Regions from separate parts of the Homo sapiens genome. Here region 2 is linked to region 1. The links come from fine-mapping of genetic effects on gene expression. Tissue or cell type: left ventricle. Region 1 holds a variant in brackets; the other region holds the start of a gene. All regions are shown on one strand. Distances are from middle to middle.

Region 1 (8,164 bases):
TGACCTCAAGTGATCTGCCTACCTCTGCCTCCCAAAGGGCTGGGATTATAGGCATGCACCACCACGCCAGCCTCTTTTTTTTTTAAATTAATTAATTTATTTTTTTTGAGACGGAGTCTTGCTCTCTCGCCCAGGCTGGAGTGCAGTGGCGCGACATCGGCTCACTGCAAGCTCCACCTCTTGGGTTCACGCCAACCATTCTCCTGCCTCAGCCTCCTGAGTAGCTGGGACTACTGGTGCCCACCACCATGCCTGGCTAATTTTTTGCATTTTTAGTAGAGATGGGGTTTCACCGTGTTAGCCAGGATGGTCTCGATCTCCTGACCTCGTGATCTGCCCGCCTTGGCCTCTCAAAGTGCTAGGATTACAGGTGTGAGCCACTGTGCCCGGCCTTTTTTTTTTTTTTTAACTTCTAAAATCTTTTTTATGCCCGGCGTGATGGCTCACACCTGTAATCTCAGCACTTTGGGAGGCTGAGGCGGGCAGATCACGAGGTCAGGAGATGGAGACCATCCTGGCTAACACAGTGAAACCTCGTCTCTACTAAAAATACAAAAAAAATTAACCGGGTGCGGTGGTGGGCGCCTGTAGTCCCAGCTACTCAGGAGGCTGAGGCAGGAGAATGGCGTGAACCCGGGAGGCAGAGCTGCAGTGAGCCCAGATCGCGCCACTGCACTCCAGCCTGGGTGACAGAGTGAGACTCCATTTCAAAAAAGAAATAAATCTTATTTATTTTATTTATTTATTTTTAAGACAGGGTCTCGCTCTGTTGCCTAGGCTGGAGTGCAGTGGCACAATCACGGCTCACTGCAGCCTCAACCTCCAGGCTCAAGCAATCCTCTCACTTCATCCTCTTGAGTAGCTGGGACCACAGGCTTATGCCACCATAGCCAGCTAATTTTTGTATTTTTTATAGAGACAAGGTTTCGCCATGTTGCCTGGGCTCAAGTATTTCACCCACCTTGGCCTCCCAAAGTGCTGGGATTACAAGCATGAGCCAGCAGCCCCTTCTCCCCTTCTAAGGACAAGTTTGCTTTGATGTATTTGTCTTCAGCTGAGTGGGGCTTAAAAATGGTGGTTCAGGCTGGGCCTGGTGGCTCATGCCTGTAATCCTAGCACTTTAGGACGCTGAGGTGGGAGGATCACTTGAGCTCAGGAGTTAGAGACCAGCCTGGGCAACATGGTGAGACTTGGTGTCTATTTAAAAAAAAAAAAAATCTAGTTGTGCAATAGGGCTGCCTGAGATAGCTGTGCTATCCTTGTACAGGATAGCACAGTTGTGAACTGTACCAGGCTATTGGGCTAAGGCTGTGTCCGATAAGCTGGCACCTTATTCTAAGTTGCATAAAGGCACACACAGGCCAAGGGGCCCTCGAGGGGTGTGGGCAAGCACATGCAGGGCCCTCACCTCGATCTCCTGCACCTGTTCCTCATTGGTGGAGTACATCTGCTGCAGGGACCCCTCCAGCTCCTTGTTCCTCTCCAGCAGAGTCTTCCCCAGCTCCGCAGCTAGGTGCAAGTCTAGGATAGGAGAAACACGAGCATGAGAACAAAGGCAGAGGACGCCCATTCATGTTCCGAGCATCTACTCTAGGTGACCCCAATGTAACCAAGACACTGGGAGCCTCCAGGCCTGGGAGGAGAGGTAAGCCAGGAGCTAAGCCTTTGCACTGTTATTTCTGCCTGGAATGTTCTTTTTGTGTGTGTCTGTGTGTGTGTGTGTGTGTGTGTGTGTGCAAGATGTAATAAAAAACAAACAAAAATAGGAATGGTTGCTTTCAACATTTTCCAGGTTGTGAAAGTTTTGCCACGATTCTCAGGGGTGTGGTTCTAAGCTGCATCAGTGGAACAAATACAAAATGCTGTCCTCCTCCTAGGCTGGAAGGCAGTGCACCTTCTCCTCTTAACAGCCAGACTAGCGGGTGAGGAGTCAGTGCTGTGCCCAGGCCAAGCTGGAGTGTCCGCATGGCTTCTTCTCTGACCAGTGGGGATTCCATCTACCTTGAGGCATGCTGGCTGGGCCCTGTTTCCACACCAGCGCATGGTGAGACAGCGTAGCTTATCAACAGGCTGCTGGGCCTTAATACTGACAGTGAGTGTGGCGGATCACAGCCAGGAAGGGACTAACACAGATGCCCTCCCAGCCCCACTGCTGGCCTAATTTTAGAATACCACGGAAAAAAGCTTTGATGAAGACAACAGGAAGTCAACACAGCAGAGAGTGGTGTGGACAACCCAGAAGCCAGCCTCACGCACGGAATATTCTTTCCTGATACTTCCAGGACTTGTTCCCTCTTCTCCTTCAAGTCTGTGCCTGTCAACTTCTCTAGATCTTTCCCCAATCACTTGATTCAAAGTCACACTGTTCCCTGCCCTGCAGTCTCTCCCCCGCTTCATCTTTCTCCTTAGCACTTAGCACCATCTAATTTCCCAAGCAAGTTACTCCTTTATCTTTTTCAGCTCCCCCAACTAACTGTGAGCTCATGGGGCAGTTTTTTTTTTCTTTTAAGGGATGGGACCCAGGCTGGGGTGCAGTGAGTATTCACAGGTGTGATCATATGTGCTGCAGCCTTGAACTCCTGGGCTCAACGATCTTCCTCCCTCAGCCTCCCAGGGCAACATAGTGAGACCTCATCTCTATTAAAAAAAAAAGAAAGGTGGTGCAATACGGCTGCCTGGGATAGGATCCCTTGAGCCCAGGAACTCAAGGCTACAGTGTATATGATCATGCCTGTGAATAGGCGTGGGACTATAATATCGGTTGCTGGGACTACAGGAATAGTACAATGTTTTTTTTTTGAGACGGAGTTTTGCTCTTTTTGCTCAGGCTGGAGTGCAGTGGCGCGATCTTGGCTCACTGCAACCTCCGCCTCCCAGGTTCACGCTAACCATTCTCCTGCCTCAGCCTCCCAGGTAGCTGAGACTACAGGCGCCCGCCACCATGCCTGGCTAATTTTTTTTTATTTTTAGTAGAGACGGGGTTTCACCGTGTTAGCCAGGATGGTCTCAATCTCCTGACCTCGTGATCCACCCGCCTCGGCCTCCCAAAGTGCTGGGATTACAGGCGTGAGCCACCGTGCCCGGTACTTTTTTTTTTTTTTTTTTAACTTCTAAAATCTTTTTTATGCCGGGATTACAGGCACCCACTACCACGCCCGGCTAATTTTTTGTATTTTTAGTAGAGAGGGGGTCTCACCATGTCGGCCAGGCTGGTCTTGAACTCCTGATCTCAGGCCTCCCAAAATGCTGGGATTACAGGCATAAGCCACCACACCTGGGCTAAAATTCTTAAATTTTTTTTGTAGAGACAGGGTCTTGTTATATTGCCCAGGCTAGTATTGAACTCCTGGCCTCAAGCGACCCTCCTACCTTGGCCTCAAAATGCTGGTATTACAGGCGTGAGCCACCGCACCTGGCAGGGCAGGGATTTTTATGTTTTGCTCATGAATATCCCCAGGACCCAGGACAGTATCTAGGACAGAATCAGTGCATAATTTGTCTTTTTGGAAGATTAAGTGAGTGATAAGAGCATGGACGGACATAGGGGCAAGGTGCCGTGGGGTGATGGGCAAGGGAGAGCTTCACTCTCCCCGGGAGGCTCAGGCAAATGGACAGCTTTCGAGTTGGACTTTGAAGGGTGGATAGGAGGCTGGGTGCGGTGGCTCACGCCGTAATCCCAGCACTTTGGGAGGCCAAAGTGGGAAGATCACTTGAGGTCAGGAGTTTGAGACCAGCCAGGCCAACATGGTGAAATCCTATCTCCACTAAAAATATAAAAATTAGCTGGGTGTGGTGG[C/T]GCAAGCCTGTAATCCCAGCTACTTGGGAGGCTGAGGCAGAAGAATCGCTTGAACCTGGGAGGCAGAGGTTGCAGTGAGCCGAGATCGTGCCACTGCACTCCAGCCTGAGTAACAGAGCGAGACTCAGTCTCAAAAAAAAAAAAGAAAGAAAGAAAGAAAGAAAGAAAGAAAGAAAGAAAGAAAGAAAGAAAGAAAAGGGTGAATAGGAGCTTGCTGAGAGGCAGAGAGAGCAGAAGGGCTTGCTGAATATTAAAACTGGAAGATGATTCAGAACTTCTTGGCCCAACTTCTTGATTTTATGGATAATGAGCAGGACAGCAGAGTGACTTGCCCATGGTCACCCAGCTGGTTTATGTCCACGCTAGGGGGAGAATTCAGGTATCGGGCTCCTGGTTGGGTACCATTTGACCCTAGTGACATGTGCCCAGCTCTCAAACCTTCTTTCCCTGAGGAGCAGAAACATCCTCTTCCCCCAACAGCCCTGGTGCTTGTACCCTGTAGGATTGGAACCTTCCCTCCCTGACCCCAGTCCAAGGGAAATGAGGACCCATCAGATAGGCTAGGAGGGAATCTGTCTGTTTTTAGGGGGATGTTGTGGGGGATGGGCGGGTAGAGAGAAGGAGTTAGAAGGAAACGGCAGGTACTAAAATCCCTAAAAATTCTCTTGGTGGGTCTGAGTTGTGTGATGATAGCTAGACATTTGGAGTGGATACAATCCTCCCAACAACACACATATGTATATTAAATATATTTATTATTTTTTGTTTCTTTTTTTTTTTTTTTTGAGACGGAGTCTCGCTTTGTCTCCCAGGCTGGAGAGCAGTGGGGCAATCTCGGCTCACTGCAACCTCCGCCTCCCGGGTTCAAGCTATTTTCCTGCCTCAGCCTCCCAAGTAGCTGGAATTGCAGTCGCCTACAACCACATCCAGCTAATTTTTGTATTTTTAATAGAGATGGGGTTTCACCATGTTGGTCAGGCTGGTCTCAAACTCCTGACCTCAAACAATCCACCCACCTCGGCCTCCCAAAGTGCTGGAATTACAGGTGTGAGTCACTGTGCCTGGCCTGTTTTTTGTTTCTAAAACGAGGCAGGGTGATAAAAATATTCTAAAATTGATTGTGGTGATGGTTGCATAACTTTGTGAATATAATAAAAACTGTTGAGTTGCACACTTTAAATGAGTGAATTGTATTGTGTGTTAATTAAATCTCAATAAATCTGTCAAAAAAAAAAAAGATTTAGGCAGCTTAATCCAGAGACGGAGAAGGGTGGGAGAGAGCGGGTCCTCAAAGAGGTCGTTAGAGCAGGCTGAGGCTGAGTTTCACAAGGCTGTTTTCTTTTTAAAATAGCTTTAATGTTTTTCATAAGGCATGATTGGTGTAAAAAAATCAAACAGTACAGAAAGGTTAAAAACTGGTGATTTAGGCCGGGTGCAGTGGCTCATGCCTATAATCCCAGCACTTTGAGAGGCCGAGGAGGGTGGATCACTTGAAGTCAGGAGTTCGAGACCAGCCTGGCCAACATGGTAAAACCCTGTCTCTACTAAAAACAAAAATTAGCCAGGCGTGGTGGCATGTGCCTGTGGTCCCAGCTACTTGGGAAGTTGAGGCAGGAGGATCACTTGAACCTGGGAAACAGGTTGCAGTGAGCCGAGATTGTGCCACTGCACTCCAGCCTGGGTGACAGAGAGAGACCCTGTCTCAAAAAAACAAAACAAACAAACAAACAACAACAACAAACTGGTGATTTAAAAATTAGAGGCCAGGCCGGGTATGGTGGCTCACGCCTGTAATCCCAGCACTTTGGGAGGCCGAGGTGGGAGGATTGCTTTAGTAAAGGAGTTCAAGACCAGCCTGGGCAATATAATGAGACCCTGTCTTTACAAAAAATAAGAACATTAGTGGGGTGTGGTGGCATACACCTGTAGTCCCAGCTACTTGGTGAGCTGTGATTGTGCCACTGGACTCCAGCTTGGGTGACAGAGTGAGACATTGTCAAAAAGAAAAAAAAAAAAAAGAAAGTGTAGACTGGGCACAGTGGCTCATGCTTGTAATCCCAGTGCTTTGGAAGGCTGAGGTGAGAGGATAGCTTGAGGCCAAAAGTTAGAGACTAGCCTGGGAAACACAGTGAGACCCCATCTCTTTTTTTTTTTTTTTTGAGACTGAGTCTCACTCTGTCGCCAGGCTGGAGTGCAGTGATGAGATCTTGGCTCACTCTGCAACCTCTGCCTCCCAAGTTCAAGCAATTCTCCTGTCTCACCCTCCCGAGTAGCTGGGACTACAGGCGCGTGCTACCACGCCCAGCTAATTTTTGTATTTTTAGTAGAGACGGGGTTTCACCATGTTGGCCAGGATGGTCTCGATCTCTTGACCTCGTGATCCGCCCACTTCAGCCTCCCAAGGTGTTGGGATCGCGCCCTACCCGAGACCCCATCTCTACAAAAAAATTGTAAAATTAGCCGGGCATGGTGGTGCATGTCTGTGGTCGCAGCTACTAGAGAAGTTGATGTGGGAGGACTGCTTGAGTCCAGGAGTTTCAGATTAGAGTCATCTATGATTGCAACACTGCATTCCAGTGAGACAAAGCAAGACCCTATCTCTGAAAAAAAAAGAATGAAACTAATTAACTTTGTTGTACAAAACGTTTTGTGCAAATCACCGCCCAATTCCTTAGGACACAGAATTCCTTGAACAAAGGGTAAGCCTAGGTACCTGGAACAAAAGGTAGGCCTAGATACAGAATTCCTAGAAATACAATTCCTGGGACAAAAGGTAGGCCTTCTTGAGGCATTCTGTCAAAAGACTGTCCAGGAAAGCACTGGTCTGTTTCATTTTATGAGGCTGCTTCTTAAAACAGCTCTCAATCTAGGCTGACGATGTAAATCAGATCAAGATGCATAAAGGCAACTCTACTGGGGCCAATATGATGTGGTTCAGGGATCCAGTTCTCTACTGCTTTCCCTTTTTAGACATAGTGATAGTTCTAGGGTCTCTGGAGGACGGATAGGCTCTATACTCCCGGACAGAAAGTTTCCTAGATACGGTTGTTTCGGCTGAGCCCTTGCTATGCATTGGACAGAGGCCTGAGAAATAATAGCTGGGGAGCCCAAGGGATGTCTTTGAAAAGAAACCTAGACCTGGGGTGGAAGTTTTCCTTTGGGATGAGCCCAGGCAAGCAGTGACTCTTGGTGGGCAGCTGAGGGCAGAGCCTTGGGCCTTCAGCCAAGCTGGGGGCAGAACTGACATTGCCTTGTGAGAGGCAGAGGGGCCAGACCAGCCACTGGGCCTGGACATAAAGGCTGAACTGCCCCACAGGAACAAATCCGGAGTCTGATCCTGTGCACAGAGGTGAGGTTTTGAAACAGCCAAAGTGGAGCCTCCAGGGCTGGGTTTTAGCCAAAGGAGGGCCCTGTGTCATCTGGAGAAGGAGTGCAAAGCTGCTATCCTAGAGCAAGGCTGCAGTAACTTAGCCTGAAAAAACAAAGGCAGCTTTCCCAAACATCTTCCTCAGCCATTGAAAACAACAACAACAACAAAGAAACCAAATCATGTAAATCATAGGTAAGAACTTTTAGCCTTGAGCAATTAACCTTCTGATGAGGATGCCAAGAAAAAACTAGTTACATAACATAAACCTAGTAAGGGAATGCGGATATATGCTGTATGAATTTATGACCTGTCAGTTGGGCAAAAGTCTGGAGGTATCTACAAATTGTAAAGTTTGATGTAAAGATCATTGCACTGGGCAACATAGTGAGACCCCTGTCTCTACAAAAAAATTAATTAGCTGGGCGTGCTGGTGCTTACCTGTAATCTCAGCTACTCAGAAGGCTGAGGCAGGAGAATTGCCTGAACCTGGGAGGCGGAGGTTGCAGTGAGCCAAGATTGTGCCACTGAACTCCAGCCTGGGCGATGGACCAAGACTCTGTCTTGAAAAAAAAAAAAGATTGAACTACAGCCCTGTACTATATTGTGCGCATGGCAGTAACTCAGGACTCAGGAGCCGGGCAAGATCACCTTCAGTTTGTGATGAGACAGCCATGCTATCTTCCTGTTTTCCATAGTGGGACTCAAATTTAGCTCATCCTGAACAGTATCCAGCAGTTCAGATATACATGAAAGAGATCAGAGGGCTACTCTCCTAAATGTTTTCCCCCTTGGAAACTGTTACATGGTCTGCAAAGAGGCCATTGCTACTGATTCTACCTCCTGCCGTGGGTGTCGGAGGACATGCTCCAAGTAAGTGGCCTTCATGGAGCCCCTGCAGCTTAACTAGAGTGCAAAGCCACTGCATCAGAGGTGAGTGAAGAAAGGCCAAGTGCAGTGCAACATCATACCCCCCACTTCCAGGTTAGTGTCTGGGCTGT
Region 2 (8,000 bases), 520 kb before region 1:
ACCACACCTGGCTGATTTTTTTTTTTTTTTTTTTTTGGTATTTTAGTAGAGACAGGGTTTCACCACGCTGTCCAGGCTGGTCTCGTACTCCTGAGCTCACGCGATCCGCCCGCGTCGGCCTCCCAAAATGCTGGGATTATAGGCGTGAGCCACCACACCAGCCTATTTAAGTTAGATTTAAATACATTTAAATTAAATGAAATTAAACATTCAGTCCCACAGTTGCTCTAGCCCCATGTATTAGACATCACAGACACAGAACATTTTCATCATTACAGAAAGTTCTATTGGACAGAGCTGCTCTAAGGGATAACCTCTCATTTGTGTGAGCCTGCCTCTTGTTCAACTCTTGTTTGCAAGTACACTGATTTTGCACAGTGAGTGTGTTCTGTGTGACTCCTCACTAAATGCAAGCTCTGTGAGGGCAGTGATTTTGCTCTTCTGTTCTCAGCGATGTGTACAGGGCCTGACCCCCAGCAAATAATAAATATCGTTGATCATTCTCACAGGTGAACCACTGTACACGTCCACGATTATTTCCTTAGGATAGGTTCCACTTTCAGAAAAGAAAAGATGTAGAGCTGGGCGTGGTGACTCATGCCTGTAATCCCAGCACTTTGGGAGGCTGAGGCGGGAGGATCATTTGAGGTCAGGAGTTCGAGACCAGCCTGGGCAACACAGTGAAACCCCATCTGTACTAAAAATAAAATAAAATAAAAAAATTAGCCAGGCATGGTGGCACACGCCTGTAATCCCAGCTACTTGGGAGGCTGAGGCAGGAGAACTGCTTGAACCCAGGAGGCAGAGGCTACAGTAAGCTGAGATCATGCCACTGCACTACAGCCTGGGCGACAGAGTGAGACTCCGTCTCAAAAAGAAAAGAAAAGATGTGCCTGCTTTAGAGCTTTTGTGACATACTGTAACTGCAAAAGCTGTACCCGTTTCCACTCCAAGTCTGAAGGTCTCTGCCTTTTACCAATGCTGGATTACTAAGGTGATGAAGGAAAAAACATTTAACCTGGCATGAAAAATGTGAAACCCTACTAATGGTAAATTCTTCACCCAGTCCTTCATTTAAGCATACACTCTACATACCTGCCTGCGCACCTACTAAGTGCCAGGCACTGTTCCAATCCTGCCTCTCAGTGCTCACACACACTCAGCTGCAGGCGCAGGTCATCTGAAGATGCGGCTCGAGTTCATAAACCAGAATAAAACAAAATGACCTGGATTCCTCCCAACCTGCCTCTCTCAGAACGCTTCCAGCAGGCGCCCCCAGTCTGTGCCCAAGGAACTGCACTCCAGCCAAGGGTTCCAGGTAAGGAGAGGCCATTTTCTACCTTAGACTAGTCAGCCAGGTCCCAGGACTAGAATATATGGAAGGGGAACAGGAAGGGGATTTACCTTGGTTGGAATCGTCGAACCACATAACCCAACCTCTTCAGGTGGCTGAAGACCTCAAAAGAAAAAAAAAAAATGAAAGCTCAGATGGCCACTCTGGAAAACACCAAATGGTTTCTCCAGACACAGGCCATCCCCACAGCCCTCTCTGCCCCTCCTGTACACCCCCAGATTCTAAACCCTGTGATTAAGGTTGGACCATGCTTCATTACGAACACCATCCCTAAAGATCTCAGGCTCTGAATTCCTGTCCTCCCACTTACCTTACTCGGCACAAATGACATTTAGCCAAATCCAAAAAAACTGATAGCCATGAAACCAGAAAACCACCACGCCCTGAAATACTTGAGTATTTTGATACAAAGCTCATAGGAGTGAAGCTGCCGATCACCATGTGAACAAAATGATGGCAGGTGGTGGGCATCTCTCCAGCCCCACACCTCCACAGATGCCGGTGGGAAGTTTCTGGTAGGGAGCCACATATTCAACCTTGTGTCCCTGCATTCATATCAGAGGAACATAGATAAGAATGTCCCCCATCCTGCTTGATCTCAGCAGGCTTTAGCACAGCTAACCACTTCCTCCTTGAAAGACCTTCTTTTGGCTTCTGTGATGCGACTTTGGTTTTTCTCCTGCATCACCAGACACTCCTCGGTCTGTTTCTGCTTCTTATCTGCCCCCTAACCTACACAGAGAGCCCCAGGGCTCAGACCCAGCCCTCTACTCTGATGGCACTCCCATACAGCCCAGTAGTTTAAATACCATCCATGTGCTCATGGCACCCATATTTACATCTAGCCTTGACCTCTCCTCACACTCCAGACTTGGATTCCAATTGTCTGTCTGCTTTACACTCACTTGGATGTCCAAGAAGCTCCTCAAAATTAACTTATCTGACACAGTTCTTTCGACTGGTCTTGTCCTCCCAAATCTGCTCCTCTTCATTCTTCCCACTCAGAAAATGACAGCACCTTCATCCACTGGTGCATGCCCAAATCATGGGCGGTAATCCTGGGTTCTTCTCTCTCCTTAATCCTGACATCCAATCCATTGGCAGTCCTATCCATTCTTTCTCCAAAATATTTCTGAGATTCATCTATTTTTCACTCACTGCAACTCTACCCACCCCCAACCTGCGACAAGCCCCTAGCTTCTCTCACCTGAATGAACAGCCCAGTCTCTTTGGATTCTCTTCCCCCACCTTATCTTCTGACAGCACTGGGGTCTATGTGAAGCCAACAGGCCACCACCACAATGTAAGCCTCGTGACAGCATAGCCCTCGTCTGCCCTGCAGCCCCAGCATGTGACACTGTGCCTGGCACCTTATGGGTACTTGTCAATACTCATTGATTCAGTGGATGGGTGGCTCCCGGAGGCGGGGTGGTGGCAGATACCTGGTACTGCAGGAAGGTCACAGTGTGGTCGGTCAGCAGCAGCTGGTAAGCTTCCTGGATAGACAGTGGCAGGTCTTGGTGGAAGAGGTGGATGGAGCCCTGGAAGTGGGGCCAACAGCTCAGCTTATGAGCCCTCACTACAGTGCCACAGAGGAATGGGGCAACTTCCCAGCTCTGATACCTCCCCCTCCCCCTCTCAGCAGCGCATCAAGAATGTGGCCAACCAGGAAAGTGGGGCAGCATCACTAATGTGGACTGGAATCCCTGCTCCCTGCAACGTACCACCTCCTGCTTTAGAAGTTTGGTTATCAGTTCTCTAAAGACCGGGTTGTGTGTGCTTTTTCTCCGATAAAACGTGTCCTTCCCGTTCTTTGGTCCCAACTCCTTCCCCACCTCCCGGGCCCCACTTACACACTCCAGAAGATACAAGGCCTCTTCCGGGTGAAGGCGCTGCCGGCCCTGCTCTGAGAAGCCCATGGTCTGCCAGAATTTGCCCTGTGTGGGGCCCAGAGCAAGTGTCACAAGGGAGGGAGGGCAGGGAGGGCAGGGAGGGCGGTCCCCGGTCCCCGAGCCCGCCGCTCACCGCGGGAGACTTCAACTCCACGAAGCCCTCTTCTGGCCTCCACTCGGCAGCCACCAAGCTGCCCCTGGCGAGGAGTGGGGAGGGGTCTGCGTCAGTCCATTCCGGAGACCCCGCGGCCCGCCTCGCCCCCGCTTCCCTTACCCCTGGGCCCGCCCCTCTCACAGGCGCTCCACGCGCTGCTCTGCCAGCAGCTGCCAGAGCTCTTCCCGGCACCGGCGCAGCCGCTCGGCCTGAGCTGCCGAGCCGTCGGGCAGAAAGTCCTTGGGGCCATGCGAGCGCTGGGGCAGCTTCTGCGACCGCGAGCGGGCGGCGAAGAGCTCCCGGGCGCTGGGGGAGAAGGGGACGCGGGGTCAGCGCCGCGCATCGGGGGCCGCCTGGCCGGGTCCCGGGCGCCGGTTTCCCTACCCGCGCTGGCCCCGCGCCCCCGACACCCACTCCGGCCGGGCCGCGCCGCACCTGAGCACGCGCCCCGCGGGAACCTCCACGGCCGCGGGCTCGGGCTCGGGCTCCATCCCGCCGCCGCCTGCCGCTGCGCGCGCCGCCACGCCCCGCCCACCGCCGGAGCTCCGCGCTGCCCTAGTGCCCGCCGATCCGCAATGCCGCGGCAGCCCCGCCCCCTGCACCGCCCCAGCCCGCTCTGCGCCCTCCTGATTGTCCCCGGTCCTAGCGCCCGCCCGGAAGCGCACCCCGACGCCGGGTCTGGGAGCTCAGCCCGCAGGTTGCTGGAGATGCAGAAGGCCCCTCTTTTGCCCCTAGCCCTCCTCGGGGCTTCTCTCCAGTAAAGCCTGAGGAGCCGGCGTCTGGAGTGCAGTGCGAATGGTCACACTTGTGACCGCCCCTCTGCAGCCTCGCGCTGCTTAGTCCCCACCGCCCGGGCTGGGCAAGGAGGGCAGAAGGGCTCAGGGAAGGACGAGCGGAGGGTGTGCAAATTCCGACTTTGCAGGCCGAAGGCCACCCGGGAACTGTCAGGAGCGGTCCGGGGAGGTTCGCCATTCCTTCGGTGTCTTCCGTCCGGTCCCTACGGCTGGGCTCCGAAGCCAGGTTTCGAGGGCCGGGGGCGGGAGGCGCTGTCCGGCCCACGACGGTGCTGAAGCGCCACCTCCGCCCGGCACGAGCGCCTCCTCGAGGCTGGGGTCCCCGCACTGGTGCCGTCCGCTAGGTGGTGCCATTGCCCGGCCGGCGGCTGCGGGTGGGCGACGCCGGCCGCAGACGGGGGGTACTGCAAGTGGGGTCCCGCGTCTTGGTTGCCAACCCCCTTCACATTACGTCTTCTCTCCCACCAGTCAGACCCGGGGTGTCTAGCCCTTGGGTCTAAGTCCAGAGCCCCAGGTCACCTCTGCCCCCGCGCCCCCCGCCCCTCCGTTTCACCTGGGCGCATGCGCTGATCCGGTCAGCGCCCCCGGTCCGGGCGGGCACGAGTTGGGGCGGGATCTGGCGCGGATGGGGGCGGAGCCGCCGGTGCTGACTGACAGCCTGACTGCGCGGCCGGGACGGTCCCTCCGTTCCCGATCCGGCGGGAGGGAGGGGGGAGGGGCGGGATTTCCTGCGGGAGGCGCCGAGCCGGCCTTGGAAAAGGAGAAGGAGAAAGGGGGGCAGGGGGGAGTGGGAGCCACCGTCCTGAGTGCCAGGGACCGAGCAGGGCCAGCCGGACCCCGGCGGGCGGCCGGGAGAGGTGAGGCTGCGGGGCCCGCGCTGGGGGTCAGCGCCCCTGGGGGCGGGCGCAAACTAACTTTTCTTGCGGGGTCGGCGGGCACCTCCATCTCCCCGCTCCTTCCGTCCTCCTCGCGCCCCTTTTTCCATCCTCCGCGTTTATACCTCGGGCGCTTGGCCCGCCCGGCTTCTCCCGCCGCTTTGTTCCCCGGTGGGCCTGGGCTGGGCTGGGCTGGGCTGGGGGGTTGCGAGGCGCTGGAGGGACATTCCGGGGGGCGGGGGAGCCAGCCCGACCCCAGGCACTGCCAAGGGCGCCCTCCGCCCGTGTCGGCCGCGGGCTCCGCGTGGGAGTGCCCCTGGGTTGGGCTTGGGACGTTTGGGGAGTGAGGGGTTCCCGGCCAGGGCCCCAGGCCTGCGCGGATCTCATGCCACAAGACTCTGGCAGTAAATTCGCTGCCACCGAGAAACTGACGTAAGCTTCTCTGCGGTGGAGTCCAGGGTCTGGGCTTCAGGTTCAGGCTTGGGGGGCTTGGGAGCCCCGTTTGTCAGCAGTGCCCCAGCTCTCTCTGTTCTCTGCCCAGCTGCTCCTCCACCCGACACAAGGGGCGAGGGCGGGTCAGCAACAGGTGCTGTGCAGCTTCCCTCTCTAGCAGGCAGAGCCCCCAGAAATGGGGGGCCAGAAGCACTTCATGCTCTCCGTTCACAAAGAGTCCTAGGACTAGGGCATCCAGCCATTAAAGCGAAGCCTTGAAGCCTCCGTAGGGAGGAATCTGGGGGCTGGTGCCTTTGACAGGGAGTGACCCCTGCCCGCCTGCCTGTGCCTGACCCTCCCGGCCCCACCTCCTGGCCCGCCAGTTGTCTGTGGGTGTCGGAGCCTCGGGCTGTGGAGAACAGGCTGCTGGCCCGGCCTGCCCCAGTATGTCATGCTGCCAGGGCCCCTCCTGCCCAAGGTTGAGGTACTGCCAGGTGCCCTGGGGCCCCAGTGACTCAGCCTCCCCCTCCCAGAATGCCACCTCCCCCCCACCAATACTCCTCTCATGCATAGCAGCTTCCTCCCCACTTTCAGTGGCTCAGCATCACCATCGACTCCGAGGGGAGCCAGGGTGGCTTGGGGGCTCCCTGGAGGTCTTGTCCTGCTCATCCTCTGCACTCCACTTCTGGGACCCTTGCAGGCTGTGGCCCAGCATTCGACAGAGGCCCCGTGCTTTTTCCAGAGCCCTGAGACCAGTGCACCGCTGCTGCCTGAGGCCCAAGGGAATGCTGGCTGCTCTCTGGGTGGGCACTGGTGTTCCACAGCCAAGCCGGGAAGATTGGTGTGCCCAGTCCCAGCCCATCCTGGAGCTGTCGGAAGCCACAAGCTGATATCCATCCAGATTTCCATGTAGCCTTCACCCCCTCAAAGATTAGCTTTCCTTCGTGTGGTGGCAGTTCACGGAGCACCTTTGGGAGTATCCCTCAGTACCTGACGAGGAGCCCACTGCCTGGGACACCTGACTTGCTCCCCCGGAACCGGGAGCCCTCCAAGGGGCTGTGGCATGGCGCCCTGACGCCCCAGCTTGGACCCGTTGCCTGCCTTTGCCCTGGACTCCTGAGTGTAGAGCTCAGCCCAGGAGCCAGTATGGGTCGTGAACAGGACCTGATCCTCGCCGTCAAGAATGGAGATGTGACCGGTGTGCAGAAACTGGTGGCGAAGGTCAAGGCCACAAAGACAAGTGAGTACCGGGTGGGACGAGCATCCCGCTGAGGCCGAGCGCTCAGTTCACAGAGGCTTGGTGGGTGGGGGTGGGTCACTGTGATCTGCATATTTGAGGAGGGTGGACTGTCTTGTTCTCAGTAAGAAGTGCCTCTGTGTGAGAGAGCCAGAGAGAAAGTTGGGTCCCCCTTGCTGTGTGTCCTTAGGCAAGTCACTTAACCTCTCTGGGCTGCAGTTTCCTGGCCTGCAAAATTAGAGGGTTGAAGTACGTTCATTCACATTGTTATTGAGTGCCTATAGCTTGTCACCCAGGCTGGAGTACAGTGGCAGGATCTCGGCTCACGGGAACCTCCGCCTTCTGGGTTCAAGCCATTCTCCTGCCTCAGCCTCCCTAGTAGCTGGGATTACAGGTGTGTGCCACCATGCCCGGCTAATTTTTTTTTATATTTTTGGTAGAGATGGGGGTTTCACCATGTTGACCAGACTGGTCTCGAACTCCAGACCTCAAGTGATCCACCCACCTAGGTAGGCCTCCTAGTACTAGGATTACAGGCGTGAGTCACTGTGCCTGGCTCAGGCTCTGTTCTAAGCACTGGATCATAGTAGTGAACAAAACAGACCCAAATTCCTGTCTTCGTGGAGTTGCCTTCTAGCAGATGGTCTTTCTGATGTGTTCTTTGGAGCCATGAGATTTCTGACAGTGGGTTAGAGAAGACTGAATAGATAGAACTTCATCCCTACCCCCAACCTCAAACGCACACATTTCAACCAGAGCACCTCTATGTTCGTGTCTTAAGAGGATATCTATAAGATAGCTGTTTTTTTTTTTTGAGACGGAGTCTTGCTTTCTCACCCGGCCTGGAGTGCAGTGGCATGATCTCAGCGCACTGCAGCCTCTGCCTCCCGGGTTCAAGCTATTCTTCTGCCTCAGCCTCCCGAGTAGCTGGGATTACAGGTGCCTGACACAACGCCTGGCTAATTTTTACTAGAGACGGGGTTTCACCATCTAGGTCAGGCTGGTCTCGAACTCCTGACCTCAGGTGATCCACCCGCTTCAGCCTCCCAAAGTGCTAGGATTGCAGGCATGAGCCACCGCACCAGGCCACGAGATAGCTTTTAAAAAGGGAATTCTACTGCTTAAAAAAAGTTCAACACTCTCTAACAAGTTGCTAAAGTTTCTCTTCCCCTGACATGTGTGTCCTGGTGGGGTGTGGCCAGAGCTCATTTACTGGAGATTTTCACCTAGCCTCGAGACCTGACCGGGCTGTGGGGGATCCA

The links. PIP is the estimated chance that this variant, and not a neighbour inherited with it, causes the effect. A credible set is the group of variants that fine-mapping cannot tell apart.
Region 2: it holds the start of TSEN54, and the variant in region 1 is the best candidate, but not a certain one, in a credible set for the expression of TSEN54 in left ventricle (GTEx, PIP 0.65).

Annotation. Positions count from the first base shown.
Region 1 is chr17:74,992,861-75,001,024 of GRCh38, reverse strand. CDR2L (cerebellar degeneration related protein 2 like) reads right to left here. Exons shown (of 5, transcript NM_014603.3): 2 at 1,409-1,521. Among named protein-coding and RNA genes, the nearest start is that of CDR2L, 9.3 kb to the right of the region's middle. RefSeq lists enhancers at 6,552-7,051, 7,052-7,553. The variant C/T (reference allele first, on the strand shown) is at 3,797.
Region 2 is chr17:75,512,452-75,520,451 of GRCh38, reverse strand. It overlaps TSEN54 (tRNA splicing endonuclease subunit 54), which reads right to left and starts at 3,924. Exons shown (of 11, transcript NM_207346.3): 1 at 3,836-3,924; 2 at 3,542-3,706; 3 at 3,380-3,443; 4 at 3,208-3,291; 5 at 2,797-2,895; 6 at 1,405-1,457. The coding sequence starts at 3,891. It overlaps CASKIN2 (CASK interacting protein 2), which reads left to right and starts at 4,915. Exons shown (of 20, transcript NM_020753.5): 1 at 4,915-5,051; 2 at 6,244-6,741. The coding sequence starts at 6,648. RefSeq lists silencers at 3,686-4,065, 4,456-5,065 and enhancers at 3,850-4,144, 5,239-5,805.